Linked DNA regions of Homo sapiens. The protein of the gene in region 2 interacts with the protein of the main gene of each other region in a pairwise test. Each region holds a gene or a part of one and is shown on either strand. Other genes may lie near its edges. The genes, in order: SLC13A4, EFNA5, HIBADH and SGPL1.

Region 1 (6,999 bases), on a different chromosome or scaffold from region 2:
GAAAGAGTTCGAAAGTGGCATTTCCCCATGTAGGACGTTTCCTAGTCAGCTACTCACTTAGGCGTGGAACTGCTCGTTTTCCACGCAGTTTGACCACCCCAGTGATATCCCACTCCAACTTCACGGGAAGGAGGTTGAAGTCTGTTATCTGTTATCATCAATGACTGGGGGCGCCTTTTAAAAAATTTAGCTTGGGCAGTTGAGATGCAACTTTTATCCCACTGGGGGCACTGAGGAAGGGCTTAGTTATGGATGCTGTCTCTTGTACCCTCTTCTTCTATAACATGATAAACAGTGTCTGGACCTCTAGTTTTAGAGAGTTGGGCAAGAAAAAGGGGGAAGGTCATTTTGACTCCTCCTAAAATGTAGCTGAGGCTTGTCGCTTAGAACCATCAAAACTGCAGGCCAGGAGCTCCTGCCCAGGTACTCCATCACTGCTCTCAACTCCAGTCCAGAGCAAGAAAATCCATTTGGAATTTTAAGGGTTAAATATCAGACTCTAAAAGTTTGATGCAGGCCAGGCACGGTGGCTCACACCTGTAATCTCAACACTTTGGGAGGATCACGTCAGACCATGAGTTTGAGACCAGCCTGGGCAACATAGTGAAACCCCCATTTCTACAAAAAAAATTTTTTTAAAAATTAGCTGCATGTGGTGGTACTTGCTTGCCTGTAGTCCCAGCTACTCCAGAGGCTGAGGCACGAGGATTGCTTAACCCCAGGAGCTCAAGGCTGCAGTGAGCTACGATTGTGCCACCGCACTCCGGACTGGGTGACAGAGTGAGACTCTGCGTCTACAAAAAAAAGTTTGATGAAAGGGGTGACGGATGGATGAAACTCTACCTGCTGGGCACCTAGTCTGTGCCTTCTGTGGGCAGTGGCCAAGGTCCCCAAAGATGGGGCTGCCTCAACCAGGAGATATGAGAGGTTCCTGATACTGCTTGGGAGAGGAGGCTAGTATGTCTCTCGGTAACAGTCCCTTATAGCAACCTACATGGAGAAAAAACAAAAACAAGAAAAGCCACAAAAAGAAAAAAAATCAGGCCCATTTGGACAAAGCAGAAAATTGACTAGGGTACAGTCCAGGAAGAATGTCAGCAGCAATCACTGTCTGCTAATCCCAGCCCAGTTTTAATCAGCGTCTCCCTGGCACTCTGGAGTATTTATTCTATGAAAGATTTAAGCCAGTTTGTTTTTAAGAAGAACCATCCTAATCCCCTCTGTTTAACTGTTTAACTTAATCTTGGTTACCAAGTTACTTAAGGAGCAGAGTGGAAGAATTGCTCCCCCTCCTACAAACGTGATTAACCTGTTTTAGCTTATTTTTCCTAAAGTCTCCAGGGCAGTGCCAGCTGGGGGAAGGGGACAAGCCACAGACAGGAGGAAGAGAACAGCGGAGGGAAGGGAAGGGAAGCAGGTGACCACCAGGAGGGTGTGACAGGCAAGCTGGATGCTGAGCCAGAGCTGAGGTTCCTCTGTTCTCACAAACCAGGTGAAGAATGAGGTCACGGGCTAGAGTTTGGGGGCTCTTATCTCTTTTTTATCGTGTCACTTTTTGTCTGTCCTTCAAGAGGACAGAGAAGAAAACACAGAAGACACAAATAATTCAAGGCCACGTGCATGGGAGCAGGGCAGCCTGCTAAGTTCTGCTTTCATTCCTTCCCTAAACATTCATTCCCTGAAGTTGATAGGCGCCTTCGGGATTAGAGCTTCAACTGTGGTCATCGAAGCCCACCAGGACACGACCACAGACCACGGATTGGCTCCACGGTTCTCTTCCTCCCCCAACCTTCTCCTCAGTGCCACTATTGGGAGCTCTTTCTGTGTCTCCAGGGGCTCTCAGATAACCAGGGTCCCAGGTGAACTCCCGACAAACACAGGTGCACCATGTCGTTTGCATGGGTGTCGCTGGCCCCCGCTGCTGGGGCAGGCTGGCCTGCTGCTTGGTGCAACACCCATCAGTCACTTCTGCCAAGGCCCCTACTCTGTCCTGACCCCGGTGGGGGCCATGGGGTTGGGGGAATGGGACTGGGATAGGAGATGAACATGACAGCTTTTAGGAAGAAGATATCTTGGTTTCCTCTGGAAAAATCCTTCCATTTCTTTAAACCCACCACAAGCCACTTTGAGGGACTGCCTGAGCGCCCCATGTTCCCCTACCGACCTCCCCTCTTTGCCCTCCCACTGACTCCCAGACCCCCGGTGGGCGCAGGTCGGTACTCACGCTGCTGGGGTGGAGGACGGGCAGAGGCAGCAGCAGGAGCGGGACGCAGACGACCAGCAGCAGCTTCCGGACTCGGAGCAGGCCCTGCAGCAGGCCCATCGCGCCTCTGTCCTCTCCAGCTCGTCCTTGGACCCCGCTCTGCCGGCGAAAGGCTTCCTGCCTGGGCACTGCTCTCTATCCAGAAAGACTTCTTAAACCTTTCTTGGCTTCCGAGAGTCCTCCTTCGTCTTGGGGGCAGAACGGGAGGGCAGTTATACCCTCGCTGTTTCTACAAGAGGCTGGGCTCCTGGCCTCCTGCTTTAGGTGGGATTGATGAGCATCGTTTTGTGACCAGCAAAAAGGAACTGGGAAAGGATGATAAACGGGGGCATAGTGGGCCTCCTCTCGGCTTGATTAGTAATAGAGTAACTTCATTCTAGGTGTCAGCAGAAACCCCCTTAATCCTTTAAGCCACACCTTTGCTGCTGCTGCTCGGCCTTGAAGAAATCATTTAAAAGCTTAAAAACATTAAAAACGCTCAGAGCACATTGTGCTCTCCATCAGTTTTCCTCCCTCGGATGACCTATTTTGGGGAGTACCTGTTTCATCTCCCACCTGGGCTCGCTGTTGGTAAGACTCTAGTAGCCCCTTTCCTTAAAACAAGCACCTGAGCTTGTCAGAGTTGCATGCGGACTTCAGGTGGGGCTGCTGGTCGCTCCCAGGACGTGGTACCTTAACTCTGTTCACATGTCTTTCCCTCAAATTGGTTCCCTACTTATAATTTGCCTTGAGCCTGGGCCTGCAAAGCAGAAAAGAAAAGTCCCCAAGACATTCCTTTTTATCAAAGGACAAAACTTGCTGGAGGCCCACCTTTAACTTTCATCCACCAATGGGAAGCCGGGACAGAGACAGTAGCTCCGCCCACTTCTCAAAGCCAATCAGCAAATTGAAAAGAATGAGTCAATTTCTCTCCCCGCGGCCGCTCTTGATTGGTCACAGCGGGGGCCTGCTGATTCCGCAGAACCTAGGCAGCCTGCTAAGCTTATTTTTCAGTTTCTCAAACTTCCTAGGGCTGGAGTGATGACCATCATCGTAAACATAATCTCACGTACCCAAGCACAGCTTTATTGTTTCGGATCATAGGACACAGAGCTTTCGCTGGGAGGGCCACCTGCTGATCTAGACCTTGGGAAGGGAATGTGCCTGGTGGCAGGGAGAAAATGCAACATTACTTCTGGAGAATTTGCCTCAGAGTGTACAAAGTTAAGCCTTTCAGACCTCCCTGCTGGCAAAGATCGTTTGCCTCAGCACCGAGGGGGGAATATAAAGGGTCTAGGCCAGCAGAGGGTATGAGCTCGTGAGAAAGACCCCAGATCTTTTGGGAAGTATAGCTGCCTCCCTGGCAAAGTCTAGATGCCAGTCTCATGCCCAGATGTCAGTGGTCTCTCTGGCTAAAGTAGGTGCTCAAATGCTTCTCTCTGGGGCTCTCCAAAAAGGAAACCGAAGACCTTCTTTGGCTGGTACGAAAGGAGGAGGTGGGAGGGCAGGGAAGAAGTTGACAAGTTCAGGGACAAGGTCTTAGCTGCAGTTGAACTCTGGAATTTCTCCTGTTTACAGATTGGAAGAAGTTGTTAGCTTCTTTTCTCAGAACGGACATGTGGATTTGGGGCAAGGAAGAAAAGCAAAAGCAAAAGCCCAAACATTCTGTAAGTAGTGGTTCTTGGCAACATTACCTTACCTTGATCTGGGAGATGCTGAGCAGAGTCAAAGGGTTATAAAACCCATGTTGTCTTGAATTCACAGAACACAGGAATGGCGTTCGAAGATCTGCAACTATACTACTTGGAAATGATCCCCAGGCTAAAGTGACCAGGGAAGTGACCCAAAAAACAAATTCTTCTTGACTTTTAAGGCAGGTGCAACTGTGGACAGCTGAGGTCCCCTTTGAAATTATCTTGCCATCGTAGGATGGGCTAGGATGACTCAACTCTTTAAATGCATGTTAAAGACTGGCTACTGTATTTACTACATTCTGGCCTCATTTTTTTTTGGTTATGATTTTGAAACTCAGAATGAACAATACCACGTGTGTGATGTTTTGGTCGCAAACATTAAAGACAGCGAATAATTATAAGCAGCTGTGGAAGTCAACATCCACTGTTAAACCCATGAACCATTCCAAATTCCTCGGTGAGATACTCTGAGATAACAAAGATTCCAGTGAGCAACTCAATCATGACATCTTTATTATACCATAGATGAATATTTGTTAAATAAAAATAGGTACAGCAAGTGTACAATAAGACCAGTAGTTCTCCTTCAGAACTCTACCCATTTTTCAGAGGAAGGAAACACTTTTCCAGAATACAATGCTCAAGAAATGTAAGCCAGATCCCGCTTGTATGAGGTATCTTAAGTAGTCAGACTCTCAAAAACAGAAAGCAGAATAATGGTGCCAAGAGCTGGGGCAGGCAGGGGGAAGGGGAAAAGAGGAGTTGTTCGGTGGGTATAGAACTTCAGAATTACAAGATGAGAAAGTTCCGGGGGTCTGTTTCACAACATGCATGGAGTTAACACTGCTGTACCATATGCTTAAAAATGGTTAAGATGGTACATTTTACCTGATGTGTTTTTTACCACAATAAAAAAAATAAGATTGAAATGGATTAGGAAAGTAAGGGGTGTTGTAAAAAGTCATTTAACAAGCATTTGATTTTAGACCATTGGACCTGCAGAAATACTTTGATTTGTTAGATTCAAGGTGAGGTGACAGAGCAATGAAGTCTGCAGCAGTTAAATGTCTGTTGATGTCTCTTGAGTGACATTGGAGATAGCTGTGAGGATGCCAACGATGGAGGAAACTTAGAAAGTTTTTAGATCCTGGGCCAGGCACGGTGGCTCACGCCTGTAATCCTAGCATTTTGGGAGGCTGAGGCAGGTGGACCACTTGAGGTCAGGAGTTTGAGACCAGCCTGGCCAACATGGTGAAACCCCATCTCTGCTAAAAATACAAAAAAATTAGCAGGGCATGGTGACGTGTGCCTGTGGTCCCAGCTACTTGGGAGGCTGAGGTGGGAGAATCGTTTGAACACTGTAGGCGGAGGTGCCACTGCACTCCAGCCTGGGTGACAGAGCGAGACTGTCCCAAAAACAAACAAACAAAAACAAAACAAAAAAACCCACAAAGTTTTTAGATCCTAAAATTTGTCAGCAGAAATGGTTACATAAGTCATGGGCAAGTTTCCACCACAAACATCACACTCCCATATTATTCTAATAGTAATTATAACCAAATGTGACCCCTTCGTGACTGTAGTTGTATAGAGTGTGGCACTAATGAGGCAAAATAGGAGACCCTGTTTGTCTGTCTAGTCTACATTTCTACTACTCCTTGGGCAAAGAATAGGGTTTTTTGGCTGCTGGTGGTGATCATAATATTTGATTCTGCATGTCAGTGAAATCATTGTCATAAAACTCTCTGTGGGTAAACAATGATCTGCATTCAGATTAAAATAGTTTTTAAGACTCTAGTTACTGAAAATGAGTCTTCATTTGTCTTTAAAAAGGTCATGTCCTTCTTTTTTCTATTTTTTTTTCAGTCATTGATTGCCACAAAAATTCAAGCCCCAATTTGTGTTTAATTTTTTTGTTGCTGGGTGAATGTTCCTGGGAACCATCTTCCCATTCATGGATTTCTTACTACTGGGAGCAGCCATCTACATAACATGGTGGTCAGGGACTACAAGGGTGGGCCTTTCCATCTGATGATTCTGAGTACAAGAAAGCTTTCAGATCCATTGTCAAGGGAGTGGAGCCTCGGGGCGGGATACAAGACTGACTATCAGGGTATTGCACAGTGTCTAGGGACTGAGGCCATTGCTAATCCACTCCCCATCTGACATCTAGGAAAAGTACAAACTGTGAAGATAGGCTACCATGTTTATCTGCCTCTGGCCGATCCCAACGCTGTCTGTACACTGACTTGTGTTTTACTTAGACAATGATACCCAGAGAAGACTGACAGACAGTGAGTGTTAGAGTGTGGGTCAGCAGAGATAGAGCAAAAGTCAAGCAGAAGAGTCTTGGAGATGCATCAAAAAACAGATACAGAGATATTTGGAATTGGGCCCAAATATACAGCAGCAGAGATACCAACTAAAATAAAAGAAAGAAAGACAGAGACAAGCAGAGTGACCATGTCAGAGAGAATATGTACATTTAGAAAAAGAAAGATTGAACAAAAAAAGCATATATCAGAATCTGCATTTGGAGGAGGTAAAAGAGCAGAATGGTCAGGGAATGAGAAAGAGAAACTGAGACTTACTAATCTTCTGAGCCTGAGAATATCAGGATGCAAAGCTGTGTTTTTCTCTGATGATGAATACCTTCTTCCAGTGTCCTAGTATTTCTCCAAAAAGATCATGCGGCTAGCACTGCTATGCAAAGCTTATTTGCTCAAAGATTTTGAAGGAGTCCAGACCTCATCATTATCAAATGACAACTGTTAAATACCCATTTCAGAATCAAATTTAGCCCAATAAATCCTCACTCATTCAAAGATCAGACTTGTTGCAGCTTTTGCTTGCTGAGCTCAGCTGTAAACTTAGGAGAAGACAGAAAGATCTCTGAGCTAATGAGGAATCCTTATTAGGACCCAGACGCTCGACCCCTAGCAGAGGACTTCATCTATTAACTCTTATTTAACATAGAATTATAACAAACCTGGCTATCGTAGTTTGTAGGCAATGGCCAGCTAAGAAAGAACAGACTGTGAAGGGCAAGTTACATTGGTAACA
Region 2 (4,579 bases):
ACAGATAAGGAAACTGAGTCCCAAAGATATCGTGTGACTTGCCTAAGGTCACACAGTAGTAAGTTAATTCTTCCTTGATTGTGAGAATTGAGGCTTTGGGCAGTACTGAAGAGATTATGATTATCATTACTGTTATTCTTTTCTTCTTCCAGTATATTTGCTGGGAAAATGCTTATTTGGTCTTTTTCTTGATGGGGTGAAAAAACTATGTCTAAAGTAAAAGAATACAATTTGTATTTGGCTCCTGTTGTATTTAACAGTCGTTTTAGGATGCAGGGCTTGTCATAGTGCCTATTTTAAGGCTCAAATACAGAGACTAGGCTGAAATCTCACTATTCTCTCATCAGAATAACTGGAATGCGCCCAGATACTTGGCCATTTCTAACTCTGCATTCTTTGAGCTTCCCAGGCCTTCTCTTGTGCATGTTGTATTATCTTTTCTGTCCACAAAGATTTTGAAAAATCAGCAGAGTACAAGTAGCCCCTGAAATAAAGGCATCATTCAAGGAACAAACAAGTAGAAGGAGGGATCCAATTAAAATGATGAAAATCTTTAATTTTTATTTAGTTATACTTGTACGGACACGTGTATATACAAATACAGATCGTATGGGTTTGTTTGTGTGTGGGTTTTTTTTTTTTACATTTTCTTTTACGTTTATATAATGTCAGCATTTCAAAACAGCACTCGATGAGTAAGTGCAAAGGAACTGCAAAGCAGGGCAGTACAAGCACAGGACCACACGGAGCTGGACTTCACACCCAGACGCACACACAATGAGTGGCTTCAATGGGGTGTCAAGAGTAAGCATGGAGAGCGGATTTTGACTCATGGGTAACCTCCGACATGCCAGCATCTATTAAACTGTACAGACAATGGGAGCAAGCCCATTGTAGGGAGATTTGTCTCACATCCTAGCAGCCCTGGGGCCAATGCATGGGAAAAACTCAGTGATGCCAAACCAGAGACAGACCTGCCCATTCACAGCTCTGAGGGGAAATAAAACGTGGGAGGAAGGCAAGAGACACACAAAAAATAAACATACTAAGTAAAAGGGGGGTGGTGTAGGCAAACGGGGGTGTTGGTGGAGGCGGTTTTCAAAAGAAAAGTCAGTGACCACAACTCTGAGAGCAATGAATGGAAAGGAGGAGTTGAAAACTGTTTTTCTAATTATTTGAAAATAATACAAATGGCTGCTGCCGTTGCTAAGGCACCGGAGAAAAACAGAGTCCCTGAAAATCCACAGGTACTGTGTGACTCTTCCTTTCACAACGACACAGAGAGGGAAACAGCCCCATTTAAGCTTCCTACACTGATTGGTTTGCAACCATTTCCATGAGTGAGCTGCACATGATATTGATAAAGACTCTTCCTGGGAAAAAATAAAACAGTCCATGAAAACAATCACAAACAGAAAACCAAACCAAACCAAAGTACAGAACTGTTTCTAAATTCCCTATCCTTTTCAAACCAACATGCTGGTGGAGAAGGGAGGGTGGGCCACAGGGCTCCAACATCAGACCTTGAAAACACCGAGGACAAAATATCGATCAAAAAAGTCATGTTGTTCCAGGTCCCAAGATGATGGAGTCATAAGATTGGGTGGGCAATGACCACACATGAGTCCTGTATGGAGCAGTGTCTCAGCCACTTGTGACTCTTTTTTTCAGCCATGGTACACATTGGATGTTTCAAAGCCTCAATGCATGTTTTGTATCCTGAAAGTCTATTGTTCTCACTTACAAAAGACATAAGAATCAAATTAATACTTTATTATCAAACACTATGTACAACAGAGGTTGCTAATAATACAGAATTTAAAGAACGCAGTTTTTTTTTTTTTTTTAATGTTTTACTTTTCTTTCCTCTGCCACCCAAGAAAGTACAGTACAAAACAATAGTCTAAACTAACACGAACTGTTACCTGGTCTATTAAAGGATACACGGTATCCACTAAACAGACAGATCCTTATTTCCCTGCTTGATGTTGCAAAGCCCTTGGCAACCAGGGGCAAAGGTCACTGGGGTTTGACTAACTGGGGCTGAGTGGCAGCTATGACTGTCCTTCAGATTTTTGAGTTGTTTTTGAAATTAAAAGCTTCTAAAAGTTGCATCAACATCCTCCTAAGCCCCCAGAGGATTGTAACACCACCACAAAAGGCCACCAACACTTTTTAAACAAAGTGAAAACTGTCTGACACCAATCATCTTGAAAACTCCATGGCAAGTGCATTAGCTATGATTTCATCACTTACAGGTAGAGAAGCTTACTGTCTACTGGTGTGGACACTCTTGCTATTTTCTTTATACTTAATTTGCAGTGGCAGAATGGTGAAGTAAAGGGGTCTAATTTCACTGTGAAAAAATGAAAGACAATGGCAGAGAGGGCCATGAGTAATTATTTCACCATTTGTTAGAGACAAATGCTAGGAAAACCACAGAAGTCACCATTTCTAAAATGCATTTAGCACTGCTAACATAGTTATGACTAACTGGAATCATGACAGGATCATTTGATTTCCTTGTGGTTATAGAACATGCTGTATTATTTTGGTTCTATTGATCCATTTTAGAAGGTATCTTTCTCCCCCTACCCAAATCCCACTGGACCAACAAGCCTGTAACTATTAATTAAAAAAAAAAAAGTATTTCTGCATATGACTGAGAGTACTGCATATATAAATAGCTAAAGGAAAAAGGAATTGAATGCCGTGAACTTTTGTTTTGGTGAAATGGTGGCTGCCTTCTGTGATAAGACTCTGCCACTCCAGAGGAGTTCCTTATGTCAGAGGGGAATAGGATTGATTGTATCTGTGAGGCTGGCAACCCCACACACATGGTTCCATGTGAGAACAGACTCGGCAGTGACATCCACTCCAAATGGATCAGGTAAGCCCAGATTACATTTCAACATGTGTACAACTCTCCAGGGCACAATACGTTTACAGCTGCCTTTCCTTCACATACTTTTCTAATTCAGAACTACTCACAATTCTAAGCAAATTCCCATTCACGAAGTCTGTCCATAATGCGACCTTCTCTTTTTTTAACATATACATCTTAAAAAACAAATATATAAAAAATTCTTATTTTGCTGGAATGCTTTCAATTTTTCACATTTTACATGATCATCACATTTATTTCTTATATTGAAAGGCATGGTTTCTGTTGACATGTCGTGCAAAGCCAAAAAAAAAAAAAAAAAAAGGGCTGGATTGCTTTTCAATTGGTCTAACACTTTTCCTTGTCTAGGCTTTGGATTTTAAAGTTCATGACAGCCCCACCACCAGTAGAAACCCCAAGGCTTGCATTTCCTGGTAATCGACTGGAAACGTCCCCTGTTGGCCATGCTAAGATTCCTTCAACAGGGTCATCCTGCATTTATTCTCCTTCTGCCCCACCCCCACAATGAAACAAGATAGCCCCCATATTTCTAAATGTATCAAGGGATACCACTTTTTCTCACAAGTTTAAATAGGACAAGCATATATACTCACTCTCAGCATAAAGTATATCTAAATAATGTATTTTCTATTCTAGTGGATTTTTAAAAAAATATTTTGTTAAAGTCTTTGGGACTCCATCTTGTTTATCTCCCACAGATAAACACATGTTCCCCCTACGCTTTAGGCTGTGTCAGAAAGGGAAAGAATATAAAATCAACACTTGAATTTTTTTACTCCAAACTTTGGAATTTTATTTCCAAATTTCCCTTTAGCCCTCCCAAGTAGTGCTGACTGACTCTCCTGGTGACAGGGGTTTGTGTCCGAGCCCCTGCGGTCAAGGAGTGTGGAGCAAAACGTGGGTACTAGGGTGGGAGGCGGGGAAAGGCCACAGCACACTGGCGCTCCAGCAAAGCCAAATCATGTCTCCTCTGGCCACTGCGGTCCTCTCCTTGGTACATGTCATCCCCCAGAGGAGTATCCAAAGCTATTCCACTATGCACTCATCAACCCTGGCTTGTCAGCCTTGGGGAAGGTCACTTTATTCATAAAAATGCCTCTTTGAGTTTCTTAAAAAAAAAAAAAAAAAAAAAAAAAAAAAAAAAAAAAGTTGTAGCACCATGGTGATCTGTATTCAAAGAAAAAATATCTGGTGTGCACTGCCCAGTCACCAAAAAAATTAGAGGCACTCACACATACACACCCCCAGCAAACCTGTAGTTTTCTCTGTTTTCACACCTGCTCTGTATTAGCATTCCACACCCAACCTGCCTCCTAGAAAAAAAAAAAAGGCTTCTTTTAGAGAGCACAAGTTTTGCTGTCAAGAATGCTTTAAGACAGTCATATTAAAAAAAAAAACCAGTGTCTCAACCTTTTAGAAGCCTGTTCATTTACATACTCCTATAGGAAATGGTGTAATATCGTATCTATTCTTAATACCTCCCCTCCGGACCTGACATGGTGACATGATGCCCTGCGCGATCATCTTACAGTTCTGAATGAGAAGGCATAAATATTGCATAGGAGAGCAAAACCCTCCCAGCCCTAGCCAGCGCTGGCTGCATCTGCCACTATTCTTCCTTGTCCATAGCCCGCTGACACAGTGCGCTAACGGAGGTGAGTTCTTAGAGGAGAA
Region 3 (6,977 bases), on a different chromosome or scaffold from region 2:
AACTAGCCTTGTCTCAAAAAACATTTTTTTTTAAATTAGCTAGGTATCGTGGTGCACCCTGCAATCCTAACTACTTGGGAAGCTGAGGCGGAAGATCACTTGAGTACAGGAGTTCAAGGTTGCAGTGAGCTAAGTAGGTGCCATTGTACTCCTGCCTGGACAACACGGGGAGACCTGTCTCTAAAATGTATTTATAAAAAAGTTAAAAAGATGTGCTACTAACCGGCAACTTTCAGGTTTCATTTTTTTAAACAGTAAATTATATAGCTCCTTATAATATTATCATTCATATGATATAAACATCTTAAACATACTACAAATATCCAACAGAATTCAGAACATCACACATTACTATCTGAACATGGTTCTTTTTCTTAATGTCATTTGACTCCAAACTTGCAGGCAGATTTTTTTCTACTCTTTAAGAATCTAATGTCAGAAAAGTTAACACTTTTGCAGTAAACTAAAATTAACAGAAATTTAAATGTTTAAAACAATTCCAAAGAAAGGCCGGGCACAGTGGCTCACGCCTGTAATCCCAGCACTCTGGGAGGCCAAGGCGGGCGGATCACGAGGTCAAGTGATAGAGACCATCCTGGCTAACATGGTGAAACCCCGTTTCTACTAAAAAATACCAAAAAACTAGCCGGGCGTGGTGGCAGGCGCCTGTAGTCCCAGGTACTCCGGAGGCTGAGGCAGGAGAATGGCGTGAACCTGGGAGGCGGAGCTTGCAGTGAGCTGAGATTGCGCCAATGCACTCTAGCCTGGGCGACAGACAAAGACTCCGAGGGAAAAAAAAAAATTTTTTTCAAGAGAAAAAAAAATTGCTTAAGTGATTTAACCACTTCATCACAAAAGAACTATTTAAAATTTATCAGAAATCTATATTCTGACAATTACCTTTGGGCCAAAGAACCCAAAGTACAAGACCATATGCCAAAGTAGTCTAATCAGCACTCTGAGGTAGGCCCTCCCAGTTTACAGAGGCACGTATTACAGTCTTAGGCCTCAGGCTCTTTCACCATGAATTGGTAAGAACTTTCATAACTCTAAAAGGTACATCAAGGGTTCATTAAAATACCATTAGAACACCTTGTAAAACCACTAAACAGCAAATATGTCTTCCTTGGCTAATGGGAACTGAAAGAATTGTGAATTCATGTGAAAACTGGTGCTACTGTGGAAAAGTGTCTATTCTTTTAGGGTTATCTCAAAAGTCGGAAGCATTTTTGTAGCTCAATATATGAAGCTCAAACAGTGGTTACATTCAAGTTTGGCATATTCTGAGTTTTTATCTTGTTACTGTGGTTCTGTATCAGACATCTGGTCTCTTGCATCTCACCGAGCCTCTGTTCTTCTCCAGCCAGAAAGGAAATTCAGAGGTTTCACTGAGGGGGAGAATGGGAAGCTGTTAAGAATTGTAAGAGAAAGTTCTTACAATTCCTGGCCAGCCACAGTGGTTCATGCCTATAATCCCAACGCTTTGGGAGGATCACTTGAGCGCAGGAGTTCAAGACCAGCCTGGGCAACATGGCGAAACTCCGTCCCTACTAAAAATACAAAAATTGGACGGGCGTGGTGGCACATGCCTGTAATCCCAGCTACTCGGGAGGCTGAGGTGGGAGGATCACCTGAGCCCAGGAGGTCGAGACTGCAGTGAGCAGTGTGACTGGGCCACTGCACTCCAGCCTGGGCGACAGAGACCCTGTCTCAAAAAAAAAAAAAAAAAAAAAAAAGGGCGGGGGGCCAAGGGGCTCAAATCCTAACCCACTATTTTTTTTTTAAGCAAAGATTAGAAAAAATTAATGCCAAGGTTTTTTTTGTTATTAATCCTCAGTATGATCTTGCTAAACGATGCATTGTTACAACTCTCAAACTTTCAGTTTGAGGAAGACAACGGCAGTGCCCCCACAAATCAACCAATTTTTCAATTAAAGAGGAGTCCTGGTGTGATAGAAAGTTAAGGAATTAGGAACAACTGATAACAACTTTCTAGGTCTTGCTGGGAATATCCTGATTCACTCATCCAAGGGGCCTCATGTCCCTCGTGCGGAGTATGAAAGACTGTATTAGATCTCCGTGGATCTTCATCCTGGCTCTAAAAACTGCCTCTTTGTAAGTTCATGGCTAGCTTCCACAATTTACCATGGTATGAGAGGAGGGAGGCAGGATTAATTCTGCCCACAATCTTGAGGACGCTGAACGTGTTTTGGTTCATAATTTGACAAAAATGACATTTTTTTAGGTTACAGTAGAGGGGGGAAGCCCGTCTTGCTGGTCAAGGGTGACTGAAACTTTGCTGAAAGACTTACTGCCTGGCTTGTACAGCCACCGCTTGTGTAATAAGGCCATCCCCTCGGACTCAGGTGGTTAAACATCAGGCCCTGCTGCCCAAGTGTGTCCCCAACCCAAGGTGCACCCTGGGGGCGCTGAAAGACCAGGGGTCGCTGGGGTGAGTGCGGGTTGCTCCTGGAGTTGGGCGCTCCAAACGTCCTCGGAGTCCTAACTCCAAAGCAGCATGCCGGGGTCCCAAATACTCTCTTCTCTTCAGCCCAAGCTCTTCCCCACCTCTTCCTAAATCCCGAAAAGGGCGCTGAACCCGTTCATCAGGAGCCCGGGAGAAAGGGAGGGAAGGCAGAGGGGGGTACTCGCGGAGTGAGTGGCGGCCGCAGAAAAGGACAGGCCTTTAGTACCAGCCAAAATATTGTTTTTTAAGCCCCAGCCCAACCGCAGGGCCTCCCGAGAAAAGACTTCTTCGGCCGTCTGGACAGAAGAAGCGAGCGGCCGAAAGAAGGACAAGGGGGAGGAGGCGTGAGGTCCTTACCCGCTGCAAAGCTGCCGGCTGCCGGCCGCAGCCGCCGGCTCCAGTACCGGAGACCGGAGGCAGCTCCGAGGAGCCGTAAGGAGGCTGCCATGCTGCGCCCGCCCCTCTCCCCGCGGTGACCTCCGCCGCCTCCCGGAGGGCCCACAGACTGCGAGCGTGTGCAGCGGGACTGGCTGGCTCGCCCACGGAGAAGGGCGCGCGCGCACGCGCTCTCACCGCTCGGGGGCGGGTGCCCACGCGCGAGGGAAGGAGCGCGGAGCCGAGAGGAGCGGCCTGACGCGGCAGGGCCTGTCAATCCCTTTACGGACAGGGAAGCAGACCAATCAGAATTCCCAGGTCCGCAGCTGTGCGAAGGACCAATAAGAGGCCTTTTTGAACAGTGACGCCAGGCGCCCTGGCGCTGCCCCCAAGCTCGTGCCTCATTTACAGCCTGCGGGCGGGAGTCTCCTTGTTTACCAAAGCAGAGGGCGTGTGGGAGGCGGGGGCCGTCGCTCGCTCCCGCCTCCTCGGAAACCTTGTCCCCACAACCGCTGCGTGTTAAAAAGGACAAAACTGACTCGCAGCTTGAAAAACACTCAGAAAGCTACCATGTGTGTAATAACTTTTAAATTCATTTGATTTTACTTAACACAACAGTTTCTCAATACTAAAAATAGTAGGAAAAGAAGTTGGTAACATTATCTTTGAAGGGAAGAGTTACTAGAAACTTGCACTTTCTATTTCAAGGCATATTTCTCTAATCTTTGAAAATTCTACACCCTAAATCCATTTTGTAAGCAAAACTAAATATAAAATCCAGAAAGTAGTAGTATATGTATGTGTATTAGAAAGACCTTTTTTTTTTTTGGAGACGGAGTCTCTCTGTCACCCAGGCTGGAGTGCAGTGGCGCGATCTCGGCTCACTGCAATCTCCGCCTCCCGGGTTCAAGTGATTCTCCTGCTTCAGCCTCCGGAGTAGGTGAGGTGGGACTATAGGCCTGCGTGCGCCACCACACCCGGCTAATTTTTTTGGCACTTTGAGTAGAGGCGGGGTGTCGCCATTTTGCCTAGGCTGGTCTCAAACTCCTGGCGTCAAGTGATCCGCCCGCCTCGGCCTCCCAAAGTGCTGGTTATTACAGGCGTGAGCCACTGCGCGGTGCAGAGAGACAGACATTTAGTCATTCTTCTGTCAATGCTTAGTGTACATATTTGAGTCTGTAAACCCCTTGGGGGTAATTGCAGGCCTTCTCATCTCCACTGACTCCACCAAAGGGTTGGAAGCCATGACCACACCAAAGCAAGACTATAGCCTTTGGAGAATGGCAATACAGCAGGAAAGAGAATGTGTATGGAGTAGCTAGGGAAATGCGAACCCCAATCTAAGTAGCACAATCAACAAAATTTGACTTTGACCTTTTTTTCAACTCAGTAACCCATGGAGTTGAAAGCAAAGGAATTGGATCATTTCCATCTGGGCTCTTTTCATGTTTCTGGGCATGCTGGCAACGTTTCCAAAAACTTAAAAACTTGTACAGAGTGCAAGGTCCCTATCTGTAACTGGGAGGAAGTTAATGCCCTTCTTTGACCATCACTCCACCCCAACCCTCTACCCAACACTAAATGAAAAGAAGGAAGGAAAGGGACGAAGGGAGGGAGGGAGAAAAAACTCATTTCAACAATTAGACCTTCTCCTAGATTTGGGTCCCCACCCCTACTAGGGGTAAATTAGTTTCTGGAGCATTTCCCACCTGTGCCTCTCTTCCTGGTTTCGTCAGGTTTTAGCTGGAATAGATCTCCTGCAGGCAACAAATGTGGGCCTACAGGTTTCTTTTTCTTTTTCTTCCTCCAGCACTACAGGTTTCTATAATTAACTCCTGAACTGCAATTGGTCTTTCAACTGTGTCTCCTCCAAGAAGCCCTGCATTGTCTTCTCCAACAATGTCTCCTCCAAGAAGCCCTACATTGATTCATAAACTAAGGAATTTTCATAGGTTTCCATGATTTTAAAGAAGCGTTATGAATTTTTAAGTAATTCTTACTGTTTGAAGGTGCTTGCAGATATTATTGTACTGGCAAATGCAGTTCCTGCCTATGGCTGGTTAGCTTTCTTCATTTGATTGCCCTCCTGATGCCCTTGTTTGAAAGGCACTGCAACTCCTCCCTGAGTCTTTGCCACGCATTTTTGTTTGTAATTGTTTCAATGCCTTATAGTGGCCCCTGACTTCCGCTTCCAGGAAGATGGAGTAGATAGGTTTCTCCCTATTCTTCTAAGTACAACTAAAAACTCAACATTATATATAAGATAAACATAGGGAGACTTTGAAAGGTGGAGAGAAGTCACACTGGCTAGGGTCCAGAGAGCAACACGGTGGGAAGTTCCTTGGGTTTTCATGTAGCCTTATATACCCCAAACTGGGTGCTGGAGAAGCCAAAACCAGAAACCCCAAAATGCCAGGAAGCATAGATAGACAAAAAGTGCCCCAATAAAAGGCTGCTCTTTCTAGCCAAGTGATGAAAAAGGAGTGGCCTAGCAAGAAAGGAAACATTTAGAAGATAATCACTCCACTGTAGACAAACAATACACACATACATACACACACTGACCCCACCCCATAAAGCAAAGGCTGAGTTGGGAGCCTAGACTTCCACACTCTCCAGGTTGTGATGAGACACCCCAGCATCCTAACACCCCAATCGCTCTACTCCTCAACCCCTCTAAGGTGATGTCAGAGAAAACCAAAGAGAGGTATGGGATTTTCATCTTCAACTGGGCAGTAACAAGTAATCCTCCACACACATCCTTCCCTACTCTCAGTGTCACTGGAAACCACAGGGCGACCCTGGATTTCCACTCCTACCTTACAGTGGTGAGGTACCCCTCCCTTTCCCTGCTTAGATGGTGTAATTGGAGGTGTATTGGAGAGTCAGAGCTTTCATCACTGCCCAATGGTAAGGATGTCACACCCCTTCCCCTCCATGGTGTCACTGGAGGCTACATGGGGGCAGTAAGGAGCCATTCCAAGCCCTCTCAACTAGGGAAGTATCAGTGGACAACTAGTGGGGAGCTGAAACTCCCACCATTGCCCAGCAGTAACAAGGAACCACCCACCCTTGGTGTCAACAGAGGTGGAATAAGGAACCTAGACTTCTACTACCAGTTGCCATTTACAAGTTGATGCCCCCTGCCAGAGCAGTGTCAAGAAAAACTAGTTAAAATAAAAGGTTTAAATAATATCCAAAATATCATAATACCCAAATGTCCAGATTTCAACAAAAAATCACTCATGATACCAAATTTCAATTAAAAAATGACTCATGATTCCAAAACCCAGGAAGATTTCAAGCTGAATAAAAAAGACAATAGATGCCAACACTGAGATGACAAGTTAAAATTATCTAACAAAGATTTGAAAGCATCCATCAGAAAATATTTCAAGAAGCAATTAAAACATGCTTGAGGCCAGGCATGGTGGCTCACACCTGTAATCTTAGCACTTTGGGAGGCCGAGGCTGGCAGATCACTTGAGGTGAGGAGTTCAAGATCAGCCTGGCCAACATGGTAAAACCCCATCTCTTCCAAAAAAATACAAAAATTACCCAGGTGTGGTGGTGGGCACCTGTAATCCCAGCAACTCAGGAGGCTGAGGCAGGAGAATCACTTGAACCCAGGAGGCGGAGGTTGCAGTGAGCTATCACGCCACTGCACTCCAGCCTGGATGGCAGAGTGAGACTCCTTCTCAAAAAGTAAAATAAAACAATAAAACATGCTTGAATTAAATAAAAAGAAATCTCAGCAAAGAAACAACATATAAAGAAGAAATAAATGGAAATTTTAAAACTGAAAAAATGCAAGAAATACAATTTTTTAACTCAACAGCAGAATAAAGAAAAGAATCACTGAGCTAGAAGATAGAACAGTAGAAACTATCTAATCTAAACAGAGAGAAACTAGACTGGGATTTAAAAAGCTACGAAGCGCTGGGCGAGGTGGCTCAAGCCTGTAATCCCAGCACTTTGGGAGGCCAAGGCGGGCGGATCACGTGGTCAGGAGATCGGGACCATCCTGGCTAATACGGTGAAACCCCGTCTCTACTAAAAATACAAAAAAATTAGCCAGGTGTGGTGGCGGGCGCCTGTAGTCCCAGCTACTCGGGAGGCTGAGGCAGGAGAATGG
Region 4 (7,035 bases), on a different chromosome or scaffold from region 2:
TTCATTCGCCTCTACCCCGTGCAGTAATTTATCACCCAGAAATAACCGCTGTGAGCATCTTGGATGGTTAATGCAGAGTGACTTGTAGCAATTGACAGTTTCTGTTTATCCTCTTACAGAAGGATATGTTTATGTAAATTATAGGTTCTTATATGTAAGATATTTCCCCATGCACAGAGATATGGTTATTACTTATAGGGCCTATGCATTTACTTTAACAGAACAATGACTGCTTTTACTCGGAATATTAACTTTGGAATCAGTTTTCTTTTGAGGTATTTCTCTAGCTGTTGCCACCACCTTTCACCTCCTCACCTGTTAATTTAGAATGTTTAGGAGTGTTGCTTTGCTTGTTGCTGTAAGGAATTAATCCACATAGATGCGAGTGGCCCTAGGCAGTCATCACTTTCTGAAGACAACATACATGTTGCATGAAGTGCTTTCACTGGAAAAGTTGTCATTCATTCCTTGACTGTAATGTATAATGCTATTTGGAACTAACTGGTAAAGAACCAATAACCATGGCTGGGTTTTCAGTGGCACACTAACCCATCATTCTATGAGGTGTTTCTCAAGCTACTTTATATGATATGTAAAACATGTTCTTGGCCCTCCACCTGGGAAGAAAGGACCTAAGTGAATAAAAAAATAACCTCAGTGCAGTGCAGCATCTCAGAATTAGAAATAGTCTTAGAAGTCATGGGATGCAGCTTTTTTTTTTTTTTTTTTTTTGAGACAAGGTCTCACTCTGATGCCCAGGCTGGAGTGCAGTGGCATGATCTCAGCTTACTGCATCCTCAATCTCTGAGGCTCAGATGATCCTTCCACCTCAGCCTCCTGAGTAGCTGGGACGACAGGCACATGCCACCATGCCCGGCTGATTTTTGTATTTATTTTTTGTAGAGATGGTAGTTTGCCATGTTACCCAGGCTGGTATCTAACTCCTGGGCTCAAGGGATCCAACCGCCTGCCTTGGCCTCCCAAAGTGCTGGATTACAGGCATGAGCCACTGTACCTGGCCTGTGATGCAGCTTATATTATACATGAATCTGTTGAAGAGTATCTCTGGTAAATGGATATCCAGTCTCCCGTCTTTTCTGCTAATGGAATAAGTGAGCAAAAGCTAGGAAACAATACAAGGTGGATTCAGGAATAGTAATGTTAACTCTGATAGCTAACATTTATTGAGCATGTATTACATGTTAAGTGTAGGAATACTGTACTTATTTAATTTTCACAAAAACCTTTTGGTATCCTTCTTTTACAGATGAAAAACGAGGCTTATAGAGAGTAACTACAGCAGTTGAGTGGTGGAGCCAAGTTTGACCTCAGTTGGTCTGACTTCAGATCCCTCCCTCTTGCCTACTTTGTGTCCTTACCCCTGGTAAGGGTAGAGGTTGCTGACCATTGTGACTGATGGGAGAGGGTCTGTGTGGAGCAGATGGGATAGGATAGCTCCACCCTCTAGGGGGCACTTTGGCAATGGGGGACTGGGGGAGGAGGGAGTCTTTTTTCTTCTAGTGTAGTCTGAAAATACATGTTTTATTATTAAATTATTATTAAATCTTGTTTATTGGGTCAGGCGTGGTGGCTCATGCCTGTAATTCCAGCACTTTGGGAGGCTCAGGCGGGCAGAGTACTTGAGGCCAGGTGTTCTAGACCAGCCTGGTCAACATGGCGAAACTCTGTCTCTACTAAAAATACAAAAATTAGCTGGGCATGGTGGCGTACACTTGTATTCCCGGCTATTTAGGAGGCTGAGGCAAGAGAGTTGCTTGAACCCGGGAGGTGGAGGTTGCAGTGAGCTGAAGCTGCACCATTACACTCCAGCCTGGGCGACAGAGCGAGACTGTCTCAAAAAAAAAAAAATTTGTGTTTTATTTTCTTTTACGTCGCATTTAATGAATTATATTGAAATTTTAAAACTTGTATCTGCAGGCATAGTGTTATAATCTTTAAATGCCATGTCAGAGTAGCAAAAGGGATTACAGAATATTTGTTATAAAAAGAGGGCATTGGGTCATAGAGTTGAAGACTACTTGTGTGGACAGTATGCTGTGAGAGAAAACCTGGAGATGACCTGGAGTCCACATATAACAAGCCTTGAATCCAGACTGACAGGCTCGGGCTATCAGCCCTCAGTGTGTTCCTGCCCTCAATTTTGTTATCATTTGATTAGGATAGTTTGCTTGCCTTTTTCCATTTGCTCGTATGTGATGTGTCATAGACTGCAGTACTTTCCACCTGTGTCTCATAGAGAATAAAATGAGTATGTTCATCTGCTGAGAGTTGTGATGATGTCAGAGGGAATTCAAGTCAGACAGCTTTGTAGCAGCCTTTCTCCCCCTTGGCAACCATTCTTTTTATTCATACTCTCCTCCTTGGTGCTAGAGGGTGGTATCACTTTGCAAGTTGCCAAATATTTGTAGTTTTTAAGAAAAAGGTATTTTATAAAGCCAGTCTACCCCTTAGGTGGCTTTTTTCTTTTCTCATCAGAAAATGATGACTAAATTAGCTGATATTCATAGATGAATCAAGGTTAGCGTGTGCACCCTGGTAGTGCTAGGTGGGGTTTGAGTGATAATTGCTTATCTAGGGCAGTGGTTCTTGACCAGGGGCAATTTTGCCCTCTGGGTGACATTTGACAATGCCTAGAGACATTTTGGGTTGTTACACCTGAAGGGTTCTGCTGGCATCTAGTGGGTAGAGGCTAGGGATGCAACCAAACACCTTACAACGCACAGTTTCCTGCAAACAAGAATTATCTGGCCTAGAATGTCAATAGTGGTGAGGTTGAGAAACTGGTATGAAGTTTCTTACCATAGATACCTGGATATCTGTGTAGTCTATGCTTTCATATGGGTGGGGGAGTGATTCCCTTCTTGGAGGTTAACGTGTCTGTTATTGTCTCACTTGGGGTTATTTTGCCCATGGGTCAAGCCTTGCTGCTCAGGAATATATATTGGAGATGGTGCAGCTGATCTTTTATAGCAATGCAGAATTCTTAAGAAATGCTGTCCTTTGCAACATTTCTGCACCACTCTTTTCTTGATTTGCAAACAGCAAGCTTCCCTCAGTTTTGTTTTTTGGGTTCAAAAATTGAATCTTTCCAGGTCCTTGAGCGTCTTTATCTGTGACCCTTGACTCTTTTTCAGGGATGCTTTCTTTCTGAATCTCAAGTGGGATTTAAGCAATAAACTGAAAGATTGACCTTAGGAGCTCTGTTCTATTATTTGAGCCTTGTGTCTTGTTTGTAGGATTTGCTAGAAGAAAGGGAAAATTCATTGGGATTGTTGATAGGACATTAAAAAATTTGTTGACATTTGAGTGGCCATTGCAGGATGAACACTGTATTTGGCAATCTCCCAGTGTTATAGATGAAACAGAGCTGTAATAATTTCCACAGCCTTTGGTTTAAAGGAAAAGAGGGTTATAAACAGATAGAATCCAAATCCCAGTATTTGACTTAGCTTTTCAGTCTATGTGTCAGGAATTTTTAGTAATATTTACCTTCTTAATTAGGTTTTACCCAATCTAATATTATATACAGTTTGTGCACATTGGTGGCAGAATTGAGAATCAGCCTGGGTTTAAGAATTTCCATAGGGAATTGATGTGAATCAGTCTGTATGTGTAAATGTACAGAACCCAATTACTGAGATAAAAACCATGCTGTGGGGGAAGGGGAGATAGGGGCCCTCTGAGAAGATGGAATGGTGAAGGCTGCGAGTAGTTTGTGGATATATCAGTCATATCTTGGCATAATCCAACAGCGTACTAAGGGATCAAGGGACTATTTTCAAGGCTGAGCAGGTTTAAGGAAAACATCTAGGTGAAACATCTAAGGGCTAGCTAGCAATAGGAGAGCCATTATCACTCTTTTTTTTTTTTTTTTGTCATGGCAATTTCACTGAAGCTTTTATTGCCTCTATTGGTAATATGACAGGGACTGTAAGAAACACAATTGAACTTACAGAGATATGCAGATGATATTCACTAAAGATAATCTTCATCTCAAGTATTTTTTATATGTGGGCACTTCTAATTTTATACATTTTTCTATTTAAAAAGCATTACATTTTAAAATTTGTACCTGTTTTGACATTTGGCAAAAAGGAAACTGTACCTATGGTTCAGTTTAAAACAAAGAATCAGCATGGGGAGTTTACCGGAATGAGGACTGAAACACTTAGGAGTTAAAGCAATTCAAGGGGCGTGTGTGTGTCTCTCCCTTTCTCCGTCAATCTCTCTCACTCTCTCTGGCTCTCTCACAGACACAGACTCAAACACACACAGCCATATGTGTAATCATTTTTTAGTACAAAATATTCCCTGTAGCCAGACATTTATCTTCAGAATAATCACACCACATTAAATCAGTCTTCTCTTTTCAGCCCTAGTAAAAGTTTTGTTTAATTCTAAGATGCCATCATAGTGAACAACCTTAACTTTTATCCTACATAATTATATTCAAAGCTTTATGTATTTTTGTTTATAATTACACAGTAATTATAAATGTTTAGTACCAACCTGATGACAAACACTATTTTGTTGAAAAGGTTTTGCATTTAAAAAGAAAAATATGTAAAATCCAAGGCACTAGGCCACGAACCAATATCAGACTTTTAAAGAAAACACTTTATATTGAAAAAAAAAAAAAAAAAAAGCTAATGGGATCTCATTTCAAAACACAGCATATGTGAATTAATCAATCTGAAACCAATAACCATAACTCAAAATCTTCAAGACAGGAAACAAAACAGTACATATATATAGATATATAGATATATATATCTTTTAAAAATTTTTCATAATTGAAGTTCCTCTTTATATTTACAAAAAAATCAGGAAATACTGAAAGCAGCAAGATTCTTCTTTTTCCTTTTTCTTTTAATAACCAATTCCAGTAGCCTGAATAGAAATTTTCAGATTTTTCTTTTGGTAAAACTGCATTCTTGAATTAAAGTTATGATTGGAATATTGATATGTCTATAGGGAAAGCTTTCTAGTCTATTTCAAAATCATGTAAATAAAAAGCAGTTTTGATATGTCATTGTTTCTTAAAATAATTTCCATATTTGCATAAAATGTACTGCTATTCTAAGTACATTCCTTTGTTAATATCAACCCTAGACCTTAGAGAGTGCCTGGATATATATCCCAAGCAGAATCTGTTCCTATCAAAAGACCATAATCATCGAACATTTGAAGCATTACATTTCTAGCCTGCCTTACGGAAATGTTTAAGAAAGCAAGAAACCCTTCTTCACATGTCAGTAAGTGAACAGGGAAATGACCATTTTCAGCATAAAAGCAGCTCATGGGTCTTGTAATGAAAAAAATACATACAAGATAGCATTCTGCTTTGATGAGAAAACTGAGCTAATCTGAGTGAAACAAAAACAGTAAAGAGACTAGAAGCCAGATTGGTATTTTGCATCATGTATGCTTGTTTGAAAATCTTTGCTCCTGAAGTAAATATTTGGCAACCAAGTGATTAGCGACCACAATTTCAACAAAATAATAAGTCATTGAAAATGGACTATTTGTCTGAAAGAGCAATACCTATATTACAAAGATTGAACTTCATGGCTCATTACAACCATTTTCAAAATTTAACTGCAACTATCTTCTTATAAATTAAGAGAGTTTAATTTGTGTTCCATAGTGCGATGACAAAAAAAAAGTAAAAACAAAACAAAAAAACCCTCATGCCTAAATTTAGAATATTGTATTATGTAGCAATCCAAAACATTCAAAACAAATTAAATAGTTTAACTTATGTGACAGGCAGATAAGCATTTCAAAAGCATAATGAAGTCCAATTATGTAGTGCTTAATGTAGACAGGAGAAGAATCTAACATTATGCAGACATTTTCTAAATAAAAGCTCCCTGTAGGACAGCTATATATAAACATGGGTAAGGTAAGCGCAGACTAGTTCTGTGGAACCTTTTGAAATCAAGAGTCTAAAACACAATACATTTTTCAGGTAGGCACCAAGTTATCCTAAAAAATTTTCATGTTGGTTATTCTGACGTTGTTTTTTCTCTTTTTTTTTTTTTTTGAGACAAGTCTTGCTCTGTCGCCCAGGCTAGAGTGCAGTGGCTCGATCTCGGCTCACTGCAACCTCCGCCTCCTGGGTTCAAGTGATTCTCCTGCCTCAGCCTCCCAAGTAGCTGGGATTACACTCTTAAGCCTGTGAGAGGGCAAGGAAGGGAGTAGTTTCTGGAACTTTGAGAGAGTTGAGATGAAGGAGAAGGTAACCTGTAGGAATGCCAGCCAGTGACCCAGTAGGAAAGGCATCAAGGGGAATAAATACTTCAAACTCTTTTGCTACCCTCTGATCTCCTGCTGTAGCCTCCCATTGGTCTAATACAACTGGAAACCAGAGGTTAAGGAGTCTGGTTGATTTAATTCAGAGGGTGGAATCCGGAGGCACATAGCCGAGCTGGAAAATGCTGGATGGAGGATCTGGAGGAGGAGATCATCTGGAGGGGAGAACATCCAGCATGCTGGAGTTGAGAGGTCTAGTTTGTCTTAAAAGGCACAAATGAGGAGATAATTCTTGAACAGAATCTTGAAGGTGGATAGCATATGGATTATAGAAAGGGAATGTTCCCACTGATTTTAACAGGATAGATTCAGAGGCACACAGTTGCCACAGCTTTGGCAAGCCCAAAGCTGCTTTGTTCCAGTAGTAGCCTTAGAATCTTAATTGCCTGGAGGGCCTTTAAAAGTACTGCAGTCCAGCTTTCTTGCTGCCTAGGAATCCCTCTACAATGCCCTGTCAGGAGTGAGTGCTACATACTTTCTCAGGGGGTTCTTTCCACTGTTGGACAGCTTTAATTTTTAGAAAATTTTTCATGTGTCCAGATCACTGAATGCATCAGCTAGAATTAGGTTTGAGTGTATATAACAGAAAAACCTAAAGTAATAGAGATTTTTTAAAAGACATAAATATATTTCTTTAAGAGAAAACTGGCCTGGCGCGGTGGCTCACGCCTGTAATCCCAACACTTTGGGAGGCCGAAA

The links.
Region 1: the proteins of EFNA5 (region 2) and SLC13A4 interact in binary tests that used the Homo sapiens proteins (3 or more experiments, as listed by UniProt).
Region 3: the proteins of EFNA5 (region 2) and HIBADH interact in binary tests that used the Homo sapiens proteins (3 or more experiments, as listed by UniProt).
Region 4: the proteins of EFNA5 (region 2) and SGPL1 interact in binary tests that used the Homo sapiens proteins (3 or more experiments, as listed by UniProt).

Annotation. Positions count from the first base shown.
Region 1 is NC_000007.14:135,725,174-135,732,172, forward strand, and holds the start of SLC13A4 (solute carrier family 13 member 4), read right to left. Parts: upstream 3,014-6,999; 5' UTR 2,324-3,013; coding exon 2,225-2,323; intron 1-2,224. UniProt on the Homo sapiens protein: Sodium:sulfate symporter that mediates sulfate reabsorption in the high endothelial venules (HEV).
Region 2 is NC_000005.10:107,376,359-107,380,937, forward strand, and holds the end of EFNA5 (ephrin-A5 isoform 1 precursor), read right to left. Parts: 3' UTR 536-4,579; downstream 1-535. UniProt on the Homo sapiens protein: Cell surface GPI-bound ligand for Eph receptors, a family of receptor tyrosine kinases which are crucial for migration, repulsion and adhesion during neuronal, vascular and epithelial development.
Region 3 is NC_000007.14:27,659,874-27,666,850, forward strand, and holds the start of HIBADH (3-hydroxyisobutyrate dehydrogenase, mitochondrial isoform 1 precursor), read right to left. Parts: upstream 3,011-6,977; 5' UTR 2,916-3,010; coding exon 2,825-2,915; intron 1-2,824.
Region 4 is NC_000010.11:70,818,917-70,825,951, forward strand, and holds part of SGPL1 (sphingosine-1-phosphate lyase 1), read left to right. Parts: intron 1-7,035. UniProt on the Homo sapiens protein: Cleaves phosphorylated sphingoid bases (PSBs), such as sphingosine-1-phosphate, into fatty aldehydes and phosphoethanolamine. Elevates stress-induced ceramide production and apoptosis.